Linked DNA regions of Homo sapiens. The protein of the gene in region 4 purifies or fractionates together with the protein of the main gene of each other region. This does not show direct contact. Each region holds a gene or a part of one and is shown on either strand. Other genes may lie near its edges.

The links. The genes of interacting proteins can lie anywhere in the genome.
Region 1: the proteins of COPS7B (region 4) and CUL2 purify together in Homo sapiens (affinity purification with mass spectrometry; 2 studies listed by BioGRID and IntAct, with this or other methods). This does not show direct contact.
Region 2: the proteins of COPS7B (region 4) and DCAF11 purify together in Homo sapiens (affinity purification with mass spectrometry; 3 studies listed by BioGRID and IntAct, with this or other methods). This does not show direct contact.
Region 3: the proteins of COPS7B (region 4) and CUL5 purify together in Homo sapiens (affinity purification with mass spectrometry; 3 studies listed by BioGRID and IntAct, with this or other methods). This does not show direct contact.

What each region holds. Positions count from the first base shown.
Region 1 is NC_000010.11:35,083,842-35,087,341, reverse strand, and holds part of CUL2 (cullin-2), read left to right. Parts: intron 1-3,500.
Region 2 is NC_000014.9:24,117,777-24,121,276, reverse strand, and holds part of DCAF11 (DDB1- and CUL4-associated factor 11), read right to left. Parts: intron 3,223-3,500; coding exon 3,122-3,222; intron 2,890-3,121; coding exon 2,743-2,889; intron 2,528-2,742; coding exon 2,473-2,527; intron 2,133-2,472; coding exon 2,064-2,132; intron 1,719-2,063; coding exon 1,661-1,718; intron 1,567-1,660; coding exon 1,381-1,566; intron 440-1,380; coding exon 286-439; intron 1-285. UniProt on the Homo sapiens protein: May function as a substrate receptor for CUL4-DDB1 E3 ubiquitin-protein ligase complex.
Region 3 is NC_000011.10:108,092,398-108,095,897, forward strand, and holds part of CUL5 (cullin-5), read left to right. Parts: intron 1-1,993; coding exon 1,994-2,117; intron 2,118-2,414; coding exon 2,415-2,590; intron 2,591-3,132; coding exon 3,133-3,294; intron 3,295-3,500. UniProt on the Homo sapiens protein: Core component of multiple cullin-5-RING E3 ubiquitin-protein ligase complexes (ECS complexes, also named CRL5 complexes), which mediate the ubiquitination and subsequent proteasomal degradation of target proteins.
Region 4 is NC_000002.12:231,792,945-231,796,444, forward strand, and holds part of COPS7B (COP9 signalosome complex subunit 7b), read left to right. Parts: intron 1-1,318; coding exon 1,319-1,407; intron 1,408-3,161; coding exon 3,162-3,364; intron 3,365-3,500. UniProt on the Homo sapiens protein: Component of the COP9 signalosome complex (CSN), a complex involved in various cellular and developmental processes.

The sequences.
Region 1 (3,500 bases), on a different chromosome or scaffold from region 4:
GCATTTATTTATTGGTATACTAATGTTTTGAACAAAAACTGTATTCACATGGCTCAAAATTTAAGATGTTAGTCTGGGCAACATGGTGAGACCCCATGTCTACAAAAAATAATTTAAAAAACATTAGCCAGGCGTGGTGGCGCACGCCTGTAGTACCCGCTGTTGGGAAGCTGAGGCCAGATGACCAGGTTGGAAGTGGCAGTGATCTGTGATTGCACCACTGCACTCCAGCCTGAGTGACAGAGTGAGACCCTGTCTCTAAAACAAACAGAAAACCAAAATATAAAATTGTCAGTAGGGAATAGAATGAAAATCTCCCTCCACTTCTTGTACCCTTGTCATCCAGCTTTCCTTGGAGCCAAACATTGTTAGCTGTTTCTTAGATCTCCTTGGAAAAAAATATTTGTGGACATATAAGCAAATATTGTTCCCACTTTGCAGAAACAGTAGTACACTTTACTTTGACATTTGTATTTTTTAGAGTGTTAAATAGTAGTTAAGTTATGAAATAGGATGAGAACACAGAGAATGTAGAAAGAGGATAAAACTGTGGAGTACTGCAGCATTTTCTGATTTGGTCCCTGCCCTTGTTAAGTTCATTTATTTATTTATTTATTTATTTTGAGATGGTGTTCGCTCTGTCACCCAGGCTGGAGTTTGTATTTTTAGTAGAGATGGGGCTTCACCATGTTGGCCAGGCTGGTCTCGTTAAGTTTTTGACCTACAGGTGTGGAGTTGTTTAAAAAGCTGTTTCCGGCCACGTACGGTGGCTCAGGCCTGTAATCCCAGCACTTTGGGAGGTTGAGGTGGGTGGATCACTTGAGCCCAGCAGCTTGAGACCAGCTTGGGCAACATGGCGAACCCTGTCTGTACAAAAAATACAGAAATTAGCCAGGTGTGGTGGTGCAGGCCTGTAATCCCAGCTGCTAGGGAGGTTGAGGTGAGAGGATTACTTGAACCCAGGAGGTGGAGGCTGCAGTGAGCCACTATACTCCAGCCTGGGTGACAGAACTAAGAGAGTTTCATTGTGTTGCCCAGGCTGGTCTCGAACTCCTGGGCTCAAACAATTCTCCCACCTCAGCCTCCCTAAGTGTTAGGATTACAGGCGTGATCCACTGTGCCCGGCCTTGTTTCTTGTTTCTTTTTTTTTTTTGAGACAGAGTCTCTCAGTCTGGAGTGCAGGGGCTCAATCTCAGCCCACTGCAGCCTCCACTTCCCGAGCTGGGACTACAGGCGCCCTCCACCACTCTCAGCTAATTTTTGTATTTTTAGTAGAGACAAGGTTTCACTATGTTGGCCAGGCTGCTTGTTTCTTTATTTTTATCTTTTTCAACTTTCATTTTAGATTCAGGAGGTACACACGTAGGTTTGTTACCCGGGTATATTGTGTGATGCTGAGGTTTAGGATACAATGATCCCGTCACTCAGGTGCTGAACATAGTACCCAACCGTTTTTCAACCCTTATGCCCTTCCTCCCTCGCTGTAAAAAGCTGTTTCTTTTTGTGAGACTTTACAAAAGTTTGCACTGTTTGTTTTGTGTTCTACCTTATCTGCCTGTTCTTTGTGTATTCTGGAAAAATGTCTGGCTGTGATTGAAAGCAATGTTTCATATGCACTATCAGTTTTTTTTTTTTTTTTTTTTTTGAGACAGAGTCTGGCTGTGTCTCTGGTTCCCGGGTTCACACCATTCTGCCTCAGCCTCCCGAGTAGCTGGGACTACAGGCGCCTGCCACCATGCCCGGCTAATTTTTTGTATTTTTCATAGAGATGGAGTTTCACCGTGTTAGCCAGGATGGTCTTGATCTCCTGACCTTGTGGTCCGCCTTCCTCAGTGTCCCAAAGTGCTGGGATTACAGGTGTGAGCCACACCGCGCCTGGCCCTAACAGTTATTTTTATTTTTATTTTTTTTTGGGACGGTGTCTCGCTTTGTCGCCCAGGCTGGAGCGCAGTGGCGCGATCTCAGCTCACTGCAAGCTCTGCCTCCTGGGTCTACGCCATTCTCCTGCCTCAGTCTCCAAAGTAGCTGGGACTACAGGCAGCCGCCACCATGCCTGGCTAATTTTTTGTATTTTTTTAGTAGAGACGGGGTTTCACTGTGTTAGCCAGGATGGTCTCAATCTCCTGACCTTGTGATCTGCCTGCCTCAGCCTCCCAGAGTGCTGGGATTACAGGTGTGAGCCACCACACCCAGCCAGTTATTTTTTATTATTATTATTTTTTGAGATGGAGTCTCACACTGTCACCCAGGCTGGAGTGCAGTGGCACAATCTCGGCTGACTGCATTCTCCGCCTCTGGCATTTAAGAGACTCTCCTGCCTCAGCTTCCCAAGTAACTGGGATTACAGGCGCCCACCACCACCCCCAGCTAATTTTTTTGTATTTTTAGTAGAGACGGGGTTTCACCATGTTGGCCAGGCTGGTCTTGAACTCCTGACCTCATGATTCACTTGCCTCGGCTTACCAAAGTGCTGGGATTACAAGTGTGAGCCACCAGGCCTGTCCAACTATCAGTTGTTTTTAAGTAAATTGATGACAGGATCAGCCCTAGAATCTTAATATTATGAGGACTTATGACTGGCTCATGTTAAATCTTGGAAAAACAAGCAGCGATTTGGAATGTTATGAGATTTATAACAAGTTATTGATCTATGAGATGTATGACTGAACCCTCTCTCAGTAATCAGTTAATCACAATATCTATTCAGAGTGATTTGGCTCTGTGCCTGGGTTTGAATCTTACTGGTAACGTATCTGTCATATTGCAGTTAGCATAATCTTTGGGTTACCTTTAAGAATGTATAGATTTCTATATCAGTACTTTATATTTGGCTTTTCATTGGGAAAGGCTTATTGGAGACAATCCCTTTGATTCTTAAAAGTTTTGAGACAGTAGTAGTGTTAGGTTAAGATTGTGGTGTTGGATCTGTAGAAACTTCCGGGGTGCCTTGAACCCTGTTGATTTTTCTTTTGGAGGAGGAGAGGTGGAATATTTCCTTTTGCTTTAAGCTTTGTTATTCTGGAGAATTAAAAATTCAGACTGATACTGTGTCTTGTTTGCTTGTTTGAGACAGAGTTTCACTCGTCACCCAAGCTGTAGTGCAGTGGCGCGATCTCAGCTCACTGCAACCTCTGCCTCCTGGGTTCAAGTGATTCTCCTGCCTCAGCCTCCCAAGTAGCTGGGACTATAGGTGTCTGCCACCACACCTGACTAATTTTTATATTTTTAGTAGAGATAGGGTTTTGCCATGTTGACCAGGCTGGTCTTGAACTCCTGACCTCAAGAGATCCGCCCTCTTTGGCCTTCCAAGGTGCTGGGATTACAGGTGTGAGCCACTGTGCCTGGCCTCTTTTATATAGTTTAACATTATAAATAATGTTAGTTACATCTATTAATTCAGTGACTTAGTCTTTCTCTATTGTAGGTTGCTTTTCAAAGAATGAAACATGGATTTGCCATATGTAAATTTTTAAAAATATCTCAGCCTTGTTTTAATTCAG
Region 2 (3,500 bases), on a different chromosome or scaffold from region 4:
AGAGACAAATGCCTTTCCAATCTTCAAGTGGTGGCTCTTTCTCCACCTAATAGTCAGTGGACAGTCTCCAATATGGCCCTGCCGGTTAATCATTACACTCACATACTTTTATATTGGTTGATTCTGAGTGACCCCCACCCAGGCCCCAATCCTAGGAACCTCTGGCCATTCCATCCATGATTTAGCAAATAAAGAGTTAATGCCTGGCAAAGAGGGCTGAGGGGGAGGTCCTCCAGGGCTCCCAGGCTACAGACAAATCCACTGTGCCTGTACTTCCAGTCTCACCTTTTTTGGGCACTTGCTGCCACCGATAGTCCCAGTTTTGCTGTGTGGCAGCCTGGCGTGAAGCTTCCATGCCTTCCCGGCTGGAAAAGCGTCGGATATCCCAGAGTTTGATGGTCTGGTCTTTAGAGTTGGAGATCAGATACCGGGCATCACCCTATGAATCCAAAGGTGGATAGTGAAGCATCAGAGCTTGCAAATGTCGGCGCCTGTCAGTCTAGTTCCCGTTCTCTAGTTGAGCAGAAGAACTCTGGCCTCTGGCTTTACTTGCCTCTCTTCATCCAGGTGAACTCATTTCCAGCGTTCTGCCTCAGATCCTACCACCTGGCTAGGTTTTCCTTTCCTTGCCCAGGCTACTGGCCGGCTTTCCTATTCTAGCCTTAATCAGATTGTCTTCCATTTTTCTTTTTTTAATTTTTAATTAACTAATTTTTTTTTGAGATGGAGTCTTGCTCTGTCACCCAGGCTGGAGTGTAGTGGGGTGATCTCGGCTCACTGCAAGCTCCGCCTCCCGGGTTCACGCCATTCTCCTGCCTCAGCCTCTTGAGTAGATGGGACTACAGGCGACTGCCACCACACCCAGCTAATTTTTTTGTATGTTTAGTAGAGACGGGGTTTCACCATGTTAGCCAGGATGGTCTCGATCTCCTGACCTCGTGATCTGCCCGCCTCGGCCTCCCAAAGTGCTGGGATTACAGGCATGAGCCACGGCATCTGGCCTTAGTTTTTTTTTTTTGTTTTTTTTTTTAAATAAATAGAGATGAGGTCTCGCTAGGTTTCACAGGCTGGTCTGGAACGCCTGAGCTCAAGTGATCCTCCCACCTCAGCCTCCCAAAGTGCTAGGATTACAGGTGTGAGCCGCTGTACCTGACCGGTCTTCCATTTTTCTTGTACGGAAAGCCCTGCCCTGCTCCTTGAGGACTGGTGAGTACAGATGGAATTCATGTTCCCTGGCTTGAGCCCCTTCCCTAAACTCCAACTCTTACAAACCTTGGTTAATAAGGAGCTTGTCAAATTCCCACACCAGTCCGCTTTCATGCCCTCCTGGGCAACTAGAACCTTAGCGGCCTGGCTGTACAGTCCTGACTTCTGGCCCACCTTGCTGTCAATGAAGGTGATGCCATCCTGGTGTCCAGCCAGTGCACCCACAGGCTTGGGGTCATCCTCCCGCATGGTGCGTCGATCCCACACTTTGCAGATGGCATCATCTCCCCCAGAGAACAGGATTTGGGAGCTTATATCAGCAAAGGCCACTGCATTCACATCATCCTCATGGGACTCAATCTAGGCGAAAAGGAGGCCAGGATATAAGACCTCTTTCTAGGTCTTATAAAAAGCCAAAAACCAGGAGGCAGAGGCTCTATCTCAGGAGCCATACCTGAAGGGTGCGCCGGTTCTGTTCTCGGTCAAAGACATACAGGCAGCCATCATTGGCCCTGAAAGGGAAGGGATAAAGGAGGGTCCTGGAGCCATGATCGAGAGGACCAACGTGGTATATGCTCTAGAGAGTTCCACTGAGAAATCCTGCTCTGGGTCAAGCCCTTTGCTCTTTTTATACAGGAAGTGGGGGAAGAGTTAGCTGTGTTTCAAGGAGGCTTGACACCTCCAATCTCGTGCTGGGGAAATGGAGAGCAAGGGGTGAAGCAACTTGTAAATCCTGACCTTGGGAGAAGGTCTGGTTGTTCTCTGCAGCTGCCAGTGCCATCTGTGTAACAGCAGAACTCATCTCTGGCAGAACCCCCATCTTGTTATTGAGGGAAACATACCCCACAAGCACTTACCCTCCTAGTACTTCTCGTCCATCTGAGGAGACAGCAATGGAGAAGACAGCAAAGCGACGCTCATCTGGCCTAAAAGCAAGAAGGAGCTGGGTTAAGTGGACTTCCTTCAGCTTTTGTTAATCTACATAAAATCTGACAACGGTTGTAAGGCACATCCCCAGGGGAAAAAAGAAGTCTGGCTAACATGCACCATAATGCAGATGCTCAGTGAGAACCCAGAAATCATCCTGCAACCATCTATTTTACCCAGTCCTCTGGCTGACAAGATGGTGCTTCCCTCCCAGGAATGCACACAGACCCACCAGTATACTTTTTCCCCTAAACAGAACTTCCAACTCAAGAGGTTTGCTCCCAAAGAGCTTCCCTTGAGAAGTTTCTGATGAGTCTGACCAGAAAGGGAAGCCAGTACCTGAGATCCAGGGCAGTGTGTGTATCTCCCTCACCATAGATATTGCAGATATGAACTAAGAGAAGCAAGAAAAACAAGAATCTTTCAGGGATGGGGGAAGAAGAGTGGAAGTGAAGCTAGGGAAGAGATCAAACAGGGGACAAGGGTACTGGAGCACTTTGGGAGTGATTTTCCCAGGACAAAGTGAGGGATCCTGGCTCAGAGGGGACAGGCACATGGAAACCTCAGGTCCCAGGCTGGAGAGTCAGTGGAAGCCTGGTGCATACTCACTGTAATCAGACCAGCTAGAGTAGAGGAAGTGGTTCCCATCAGGGGTGAAGGCCACATCCAAGACGCTCCAGCCTACGTCGCGGGCCTTGATGCTCTTGAATTTACGGAAACGGCCATATCGGCAGTCATAGAGTCGGATTGTCTGGTCTGTGTAAGTAAAGATCAGGCAGAATTATGGGACAGTTTCCTTGTAACTTTTCTAGATTAGACATCTCCCACTCAGTGTACCTGTGGAGTCTTCCCTTTATCATGGGAAACATGGTCTGGCTAAGCATCCTTAAGCCAGGTCTGAGCTCCCCGTCTGTGGCTTTCTAGCCTCAGTCAGGGGGAATGTCCCATGTTCCAGGAAAAGATAGTTTATAGGACCAGGGTCTGGTACCTTGGCAAGCAGACATGAATATTTGACCATCTTTGCTGTAGATGCCACAGAAAGCCTTCTGAGAGTAGCTATCAGTGAAGCCCAGATCATTGGGCAAGAAGCTAGGGAAGGAGAGAGAAAGTGAGGGTGAGGGGTGCTCAGGATAAGGAGTGTCCCAATCAGCAGAATCCTAACAGAGCTGGAATATCAGAACAGTCATTCTTCCCTTTTGGCTGTGAGTGCAATCCCGTCTTTCAACCATTCCACCATCCTCTAAATTTCTACAATTTTCTACACTTTTCTACTTTGTTTACTCTCAAAGTTTCAACCCCATTTAACCTAACCTTTAATATCTCTGAGGCTCCTTTAACACCTACCCCTTCAAAGTTTAGGAGATAAG
Region 3 (3,500 bases), on a different chromosome or scaffold from region 4:
AAACAAATGTTCATGGCAAGATTACTAATAATAGTCAAAAAGTGGAAACAACCCAAAATGTCAGTGAGCTAATGAATAAAATGTGATTTATCCATACAATGGAATATTTTTTGTGATAAAAAGGAATAAACTAATAATACATGCTGCAATATTAGGTGAACTTTGAAAACATAATGCTGAGTGAAAGAAGCCAATCCCAAAGACCATATCGTATGATTCCACTAATGTGAAGTGTCCAGAATAGGCAAATCCACAAATTCCAGGAGTTGGGGCCAGGAGGGGAAATGACGAGTGACTGTAAATAGTATGGGGTTTCTTTTTGGGGTGATGAAAATGTTCTAAAATTAGATAGTGGTGATGGTTGCACAGTTCTGTAGATATACTAAACTTCATTACACTGTATATTTTATTTTTATTTTTATTTTTTATATTTTTTTGAGACAGAGTCTCACTTTGTTGCCCAGGCTGGAGTGCAGTGGTGCGATCTTGGCTCACTGCAACTTCTGCCACCCAGGTTCAAGCGATTTTCCTGCCTCAGCCTCCTGAGTAGCTGGGATTACAGGCGCATGCCACCATGCCCAGCTAATTTTTGTATTTTTAGCAGAGATGGGTTTCACCATGTTAGCCAGGCTGGTCTTGAACTCCTGACCTCAGGTGATCCACCCGCCTCAGCCTCCCAAAGTGCTGGGATTACAGGCATGAGCCCAGCCAAATTGTATACTTTAAAATAGTAGATTTTATGGTAGATAAATTATCTGACACAGTAAAGCTGTTAATAAAGAGTAGTTTGAATAGCTTTTGCCTTCTTGTGTAACTTGACAGAGTAAGCATCTTTTCTTTGCCTTGGAGAGTTGTCACACCCCCTGTAATTTGGATGATCTTCTAGCATTTTATCTTTTGGGCTGTCAGTGTCATGAAATACTGAGAATTCCTTTATAGCATTTTTGCCAGGATCACTTCTTCTAGGGTATCTTATCTTTTTTGTCACTCACCACTTTTATCTTTTATGTTGGTAATTTGCTTTCACTAAGTTCCTCAACACTGGCATTGTCAGCCTTACTACCACAGTCAGCTTTCTTCTATAACTCCATTTATGTTCTATTTTATTTTCATTTCCAGCATTATCACTTTTCATTTCCTGTTTACTTTTATATCTTTGCCAATTATCTTGTTTGATTATTCTTTTTTGTAAGTAGTCATGTGGGTTTATTACTGGAAGACAAGGATGCAATGAAACTGCATACTTTGCTGTCTGCAGTTTAACTGAATAAACAAATGACTAATAGGTTGTGTTTACATTTTTTAAAAATTTATTTATTTAATTTTTTCAAGCAACAGGATCTTCTGTTGCCCAGGCTGGAGCGCAGTGACACAATCAGAGCTTAAACTCCTGGGCTCAAGCAATCCACCCACCTCAGCCTTCCGAGTAGCTGGGACTATCTCGGCAGTATGCCGCCATATCCTGCTAACTTTTAAAATTTTTTTGTAGTGATGGGGGTGTCACTGTGTTGCCCAGGCTGGTCTTAAAATCCTGGCTTCAAGTGATCCTCCTGCTTCAGCCTCCCAAAGTGCTAGGATTACACACCATGCCAACTAATAGATTTTGAAAGAAGTATTGTGGTTAGTCATTGTTACTTTTGTCATGATTTGTGGATCAAAGAGCTAGAAATAAAGTTTTTACTTCATGCAGTTAAATTTATTATATAGTGTCAACTGAAAGTTGAGCTTTGTTCTTGGGGAATTGGTATTATTTAACTGTACTGTGGTAACTGAAATTCATACATACTAAAAATGCGCAAAGCAGGGACCCCTTGTAATACCGTATTTTGTTTCTAAGTAGCAAATTTCATAGGTATTAGACAATAAAATTCTAATAAATGAGAAAAATTTTGTATTAAAACATTTAAGACTTAGTTTTTCTATTAAAATTTTTCCCAGTAATATATCAGATTATGTATTTATTACCTCTTCCTTCTTTGGTTTATATTTATAGGAAGTTGGTATGCCAGCGGATTATGTAAACAAGCTTGCTAGAATGTTTCAGGACATAAAAGTATCTGAAGATTTGAACCAAGCTTTTAAGGAAATGCACAAAAATAATAAATTGGCATTACCAGGTATTATTTTATAATTACATGTATATATTTTTTAAACTTAGAAGAATATCTTTGTTTTCCAGTAAATTAAAAATAAACCTCAGCAGTAATAGATCGAAAGATGTTATGAAGTCCATTTCCGTGGAGACAGCTATCAAAGCAGTGTGTTAGATTTACAGATCTTTATTTCAAAACAAAAGGACACTTTTAACAAAATCTTTATAGTCTTATTGATTTTTCACCCAAAGTTACCCTGTATTTATTTTGAATTTTATCCATTGTTAATTTACTTTATATTCCTGATATTCTTCTCTATAGCTGATTCAGTTAATATAAAAATTCTGAATGCTGGCGCCTGGTCAAGAAGTTCTGAGAAAGTCTTTGTCTCACTTCCTACTGAACTGGAGGACTTGATACCGGAAGTAGAAGAATTCTACAAAAAAAATCATAGTGGTAGAAAATTACATTGGCATCATCTCATGTCAAATGGAATTGTAAGTAGATAGTGTGTTAGTTATTTCAGCTTTCAGTTTGGATGAAAGTAGCAGGACTCCGCAGAATTGCTTAAACAAAATAGATTTTTGCCTCTCTCACATGTAAAAGTTTGAGCAGAAATAGTGAATTTTTTTCATGAAGTTGATAGGGACATAGGCTTCTGGTTATACCATCATACTTAAGATACTGCCGTTGTCTACAGAATTCAACATGATCCCAACTATCTCAGTATTCCTGGCAACAGAAAGCAAAAGGTGAGGGTAGCTTACACCTTTCATTAGGGACAACTTCTAGAAGTTTCCTCTGTCATTTTCCATTTGCATCCGCCAGTACTCAGTCACTTGGCCACATTTTGTTACATGGAAAGCTGGGAGATGAGCGTGTATTCTGGGCAGTCATTAACGTCTTCTAAAATGTTTATTACTGTGAAAGAGTGGATACTGGAAGACAGCAACCTTTTTCATATATAAATTCATGTCATAGATATTAAGAGAGAATCATCATGAGATTCTTTATTAAAAATCTGTTTTATCTATTATAGATAACATTTAAGAATGAAGTTGGTCAATATGATTTGGAGGTAACCACGTTTCAGCTCGCTGTATTGTTTGCATGGAACCAAAGACCCAGAGAGAAAATCAGCTTTGAAAATCTTAAGCTTGCAACTGAACTCCCTGATGCTGAACTTAGGAGGACTTTATGGGTTGGTTTATGTTTTTTTGTTTTTAAGACTGTATCCTCTCATGTAGCAGGAAATATATGATTGGCTTGTAATATATTAGTAAATTCATAACAGTTTCAGAATGTCTTATCAAGAAAAATAGAGGCCGGGCACAGTGGATCACGCCTGTAATCCCAGCACTTTGGAAGGCCGAGGTGGGCAGATCACTTGAGGTCAGGAGTTCGAGA
Region 4 (3,500 bases):
CCTGGTACACCACATTTTTTTCTGACCTTCCCTTTGTTCCAGGGAATGTGTTCTGTTTTTCTGTCCTTGCTTACTAAAGAGGCAGCATTGCACAGACTCTGTTAGCAGACTGCCTGTAGCCAGTCTGGCTCCACTTCTACTAGTTGTGTGTTCGTTGACAAATGAAGTAACCTTATGCAGCTCAATTTCCTCGTCTGTAAAGTGGGAGTAACAATACAAGCCCATTATTCCTTACCTACACTCCTCGAAGTTAGATGTTTCAGAATTTAGAATTTTTGGGACTTTAAAAAGGTAATATGATGCGCATGCCTTTTTATGTAACACTCCCAGAGGAATGTGGAAACAAGTGGGATAAAAAGCCTGTCTCCGTACAGGTTAGAAATTCCCACCAGGTGAATTTCAGCACCATGCTTAAGAAAAAATCAGTTTGGATATAGTTTTTTGGAATCCAGAATTATCGTTAAGGAATTGAGGACACTTGGAGTCTTGCGGGTTGTTGTGAAGATGAACTGGATGTGTGTATGTACGTGTGGATCTATGCAATCCACAAGATGTAAAGCTTGCTATTTATGTTAGCTGCTGCAGCTGCTGCCCTTGCTGTTATTATCATTTATGGTTATTATTGAAATTTTGCCTCTTTCTCAAGGCTCAACTCAAACTCCATCTCTTCCATGAATTCTTTCTTTTTATCTTCTGTACTTTCCAAATGATACTGTTCTCTTTCCCTCTCCCCTCCCCTTTCATCTCTTTCTCTTACCCCTGTCTCCTCCCCATCCCTCTCCTCCTCTCTTCTAGTAGCTTGTACCTTTCTTCTGGTAGTTCTGCCTTGGATTTGTAGCTATGGAAACATCTGATTGTAAGACCGAGGACAAGTCCAGGGCCATGAAGTTGCACACCTCCAGGTGGTTGGTGGCCCTGGAGTTGTGCCATGCAGCAGCCCTGGCAAAGCCCATCTTGTTCATCCTTGATTCTTCTCAGTACAGAGCATTGCACACAACAGATGCTCGATGAAGATATGTTTAATTTAATTGAATGTCACAAGGGGCACAAATAGTACTCCATTAAGATAATTGCCACATCATTTTGCTTGTTTGCTTTTTAGGAGACTAAACTCTGTGTTTGTAGAAACTGAGTCTTTTCTTCTTTGGAAGTACATAGTCTTCCAAAGAAGACAGGAATATTTGTCAAATGAATAAGTGCAAAGTCATGATAGTGATTCAGTAGTAGATTTGGTTTGGGGAGTTGGTGAGCTTATTCCATAAAAGAAATCCTAATTTTATTTTGTGTCTTGATTTTTGTGGTGGGTGGGACTGAGCAGCCAACAAGGAGAGCCTGCCAGAACTGAGCACAGCTCAGCAGAACAAGCTGAAGCATCTTACCATCGTGAGCTTGGCATCAAGAATGAAGGTACGGTACTGAGCCTTCTCTTGTCTTCCTCCTTACCCCAAGTCAGCTGTCTCATTGACATCAATGAAGGAAGTCCCAGCTGCACATAGGAGAGTCACATCATAAATGCATAAAATTTGCTTGACAGAGGAAAAGATAAAATGGTGTAGAAAAGTACTCCCCATTCCATACAGGAAAAGTATGCCCAGAAGTGATTGACTCAGCAGGTCTTAGTCCTGGCATGCTGTGGTGCCGCATGTGGCATGATCATTTTGCCATATTAAGGGGAGACTGCTGTTAAAGATATACATTTTTCAAATAGCAAGGCATCTCAAGGCAAGTTAACAGCTTAATCTGTTGCTCAGTACACAGTGAACTATGCCCATGCTGGAGGAAAAACTTGCTATGTCGGACTTGCTAGATTTTTTGTTGTTGTTGTTGTTGAGACGGAGTCTCACTCTGTCGCCCAGGCTGGAATGCAGTGGTGTGATCTCAGCTCACTGCAACCTCTGCCTCCCAGATTCGAGCGATTCCCCTACTCAGCCCCAAGTAGCTGGGATTACAGGCGTGGACCACCCCGCCCGGCTAATTTTTTTTTTTTTTTTTTGAGACAGAGTGTTGCTCTGTTGCCTGCGCTGGAGTGCAGTGGCGCAACCTGGGCTTACTGCAACCTCCACCTCCTGGGTTCAAGTGATTCTCCTGCCTCAGCCTCCCGAGTAGCTGGAATTACAGGCACCTGCCACCATGCCCATAATTTTTATATTTTTTAGTACAGTCAGGGTTTCATCACGTTGGCCAGGCTGGTCTTGAACTCCTGACCTCAGGTGATCCACCTGCCTCGGCCTCCCAAAGTGCTGGGATTACAGGCATGAGCCACCGTGCCCGGCCTTTTTAACTTAAAAAATTTTTTAAATTGAGACAAGGGTCTCACCATGTTGCCTAGGCTGGTCTCAACCCCCTGACTTCAAGCGATCCTCCCATCTCAGCCTCCCAAAGTGTTGGGATTACAGGTGTGAGCCACTGCACTTGGTTTTTTTGTTCTTGGATTGCAATTTCAGTTGCTGAAATCATTTTATCTGATCTAATGGCACATTTCTGATTCTCAGCCTAGCATTTCAGGTGGGAGGCCTATTTTGTTGTGAAATGAGGACCTGACCTTTTTTCTTGTACTGATTGTGGACTTCTCAAGTGTAGTAAAGAATGTTGGTACAGCCCAATAAAGAACTATTGTTGGGGAATTCATATTGGTTGTGTCTGAGAAAACAGATACAAACTTCAGGGTGACATCTGAGCTGGCAGTACCCATTGGCCACCTATAGGTAGATATGCTGGCCTGCAAGTTTTTTTTGTTTGTTTTTGCACTCTGCTGGGCAAGTAGCCAGCTCTTTCCAGTGACTGGGATCTGTTGGAGATTTATGGTGATCTAGCAAAGTCTGAAAGCTTCCAGAAGGTGGCAGAGTGGCATATACTCAGTAGTTCCCTTTCTCTCCACTGGTACAAGTTTTTAGGATCTCTACAAGTATGCTGCAGCATGTGAAATCTGAAGGCTGGGTGAAGCCAAGGAGGCAGAGAACCAGGAGGTTGCTTTCTTAGATGTTGGGTCTTCTAGGTCTCATGGTTCATTTATCCACCTCTTGTTGCCCTAGCTATTAATAATTACCACTAGCCTGCGTTTCCCGAGCCTAGAGGCAGCTGTTGGCTATGGGAGTAATACCTGCATTTTCGCTAATGCTTGCCAGATGGTTTTTATAATGATCACATGGCCTTATCTACAGTGTATCCCCTACTCCGTGTTGCTGAAAGACCTGGAGATGCGGAATCTCCGGGAACTAGAAGACCTTATCATTGAGGCTGTCTACACTGACATCATCCAGGGCAAGCTGGACCAGCGAAACCAGCTGCTGGAAGTGGATTTCTGCATTGGCCGTGACATCCGAAAGAAGGATATCAATAATATTGTCAAGACCCTGCATGAATGGTGAGGCTAAAAGGAGGAGGGGGATATCTAGCATGTCTTTTGTGCCTCTCCTTGCAAAAATGTGATTCCCTGGTGTCAGCTGAGGGTTTGGGGTGGGCCTGTAGCTACCTGGGAGCTGGGGCTTAGTGAGCCGGAG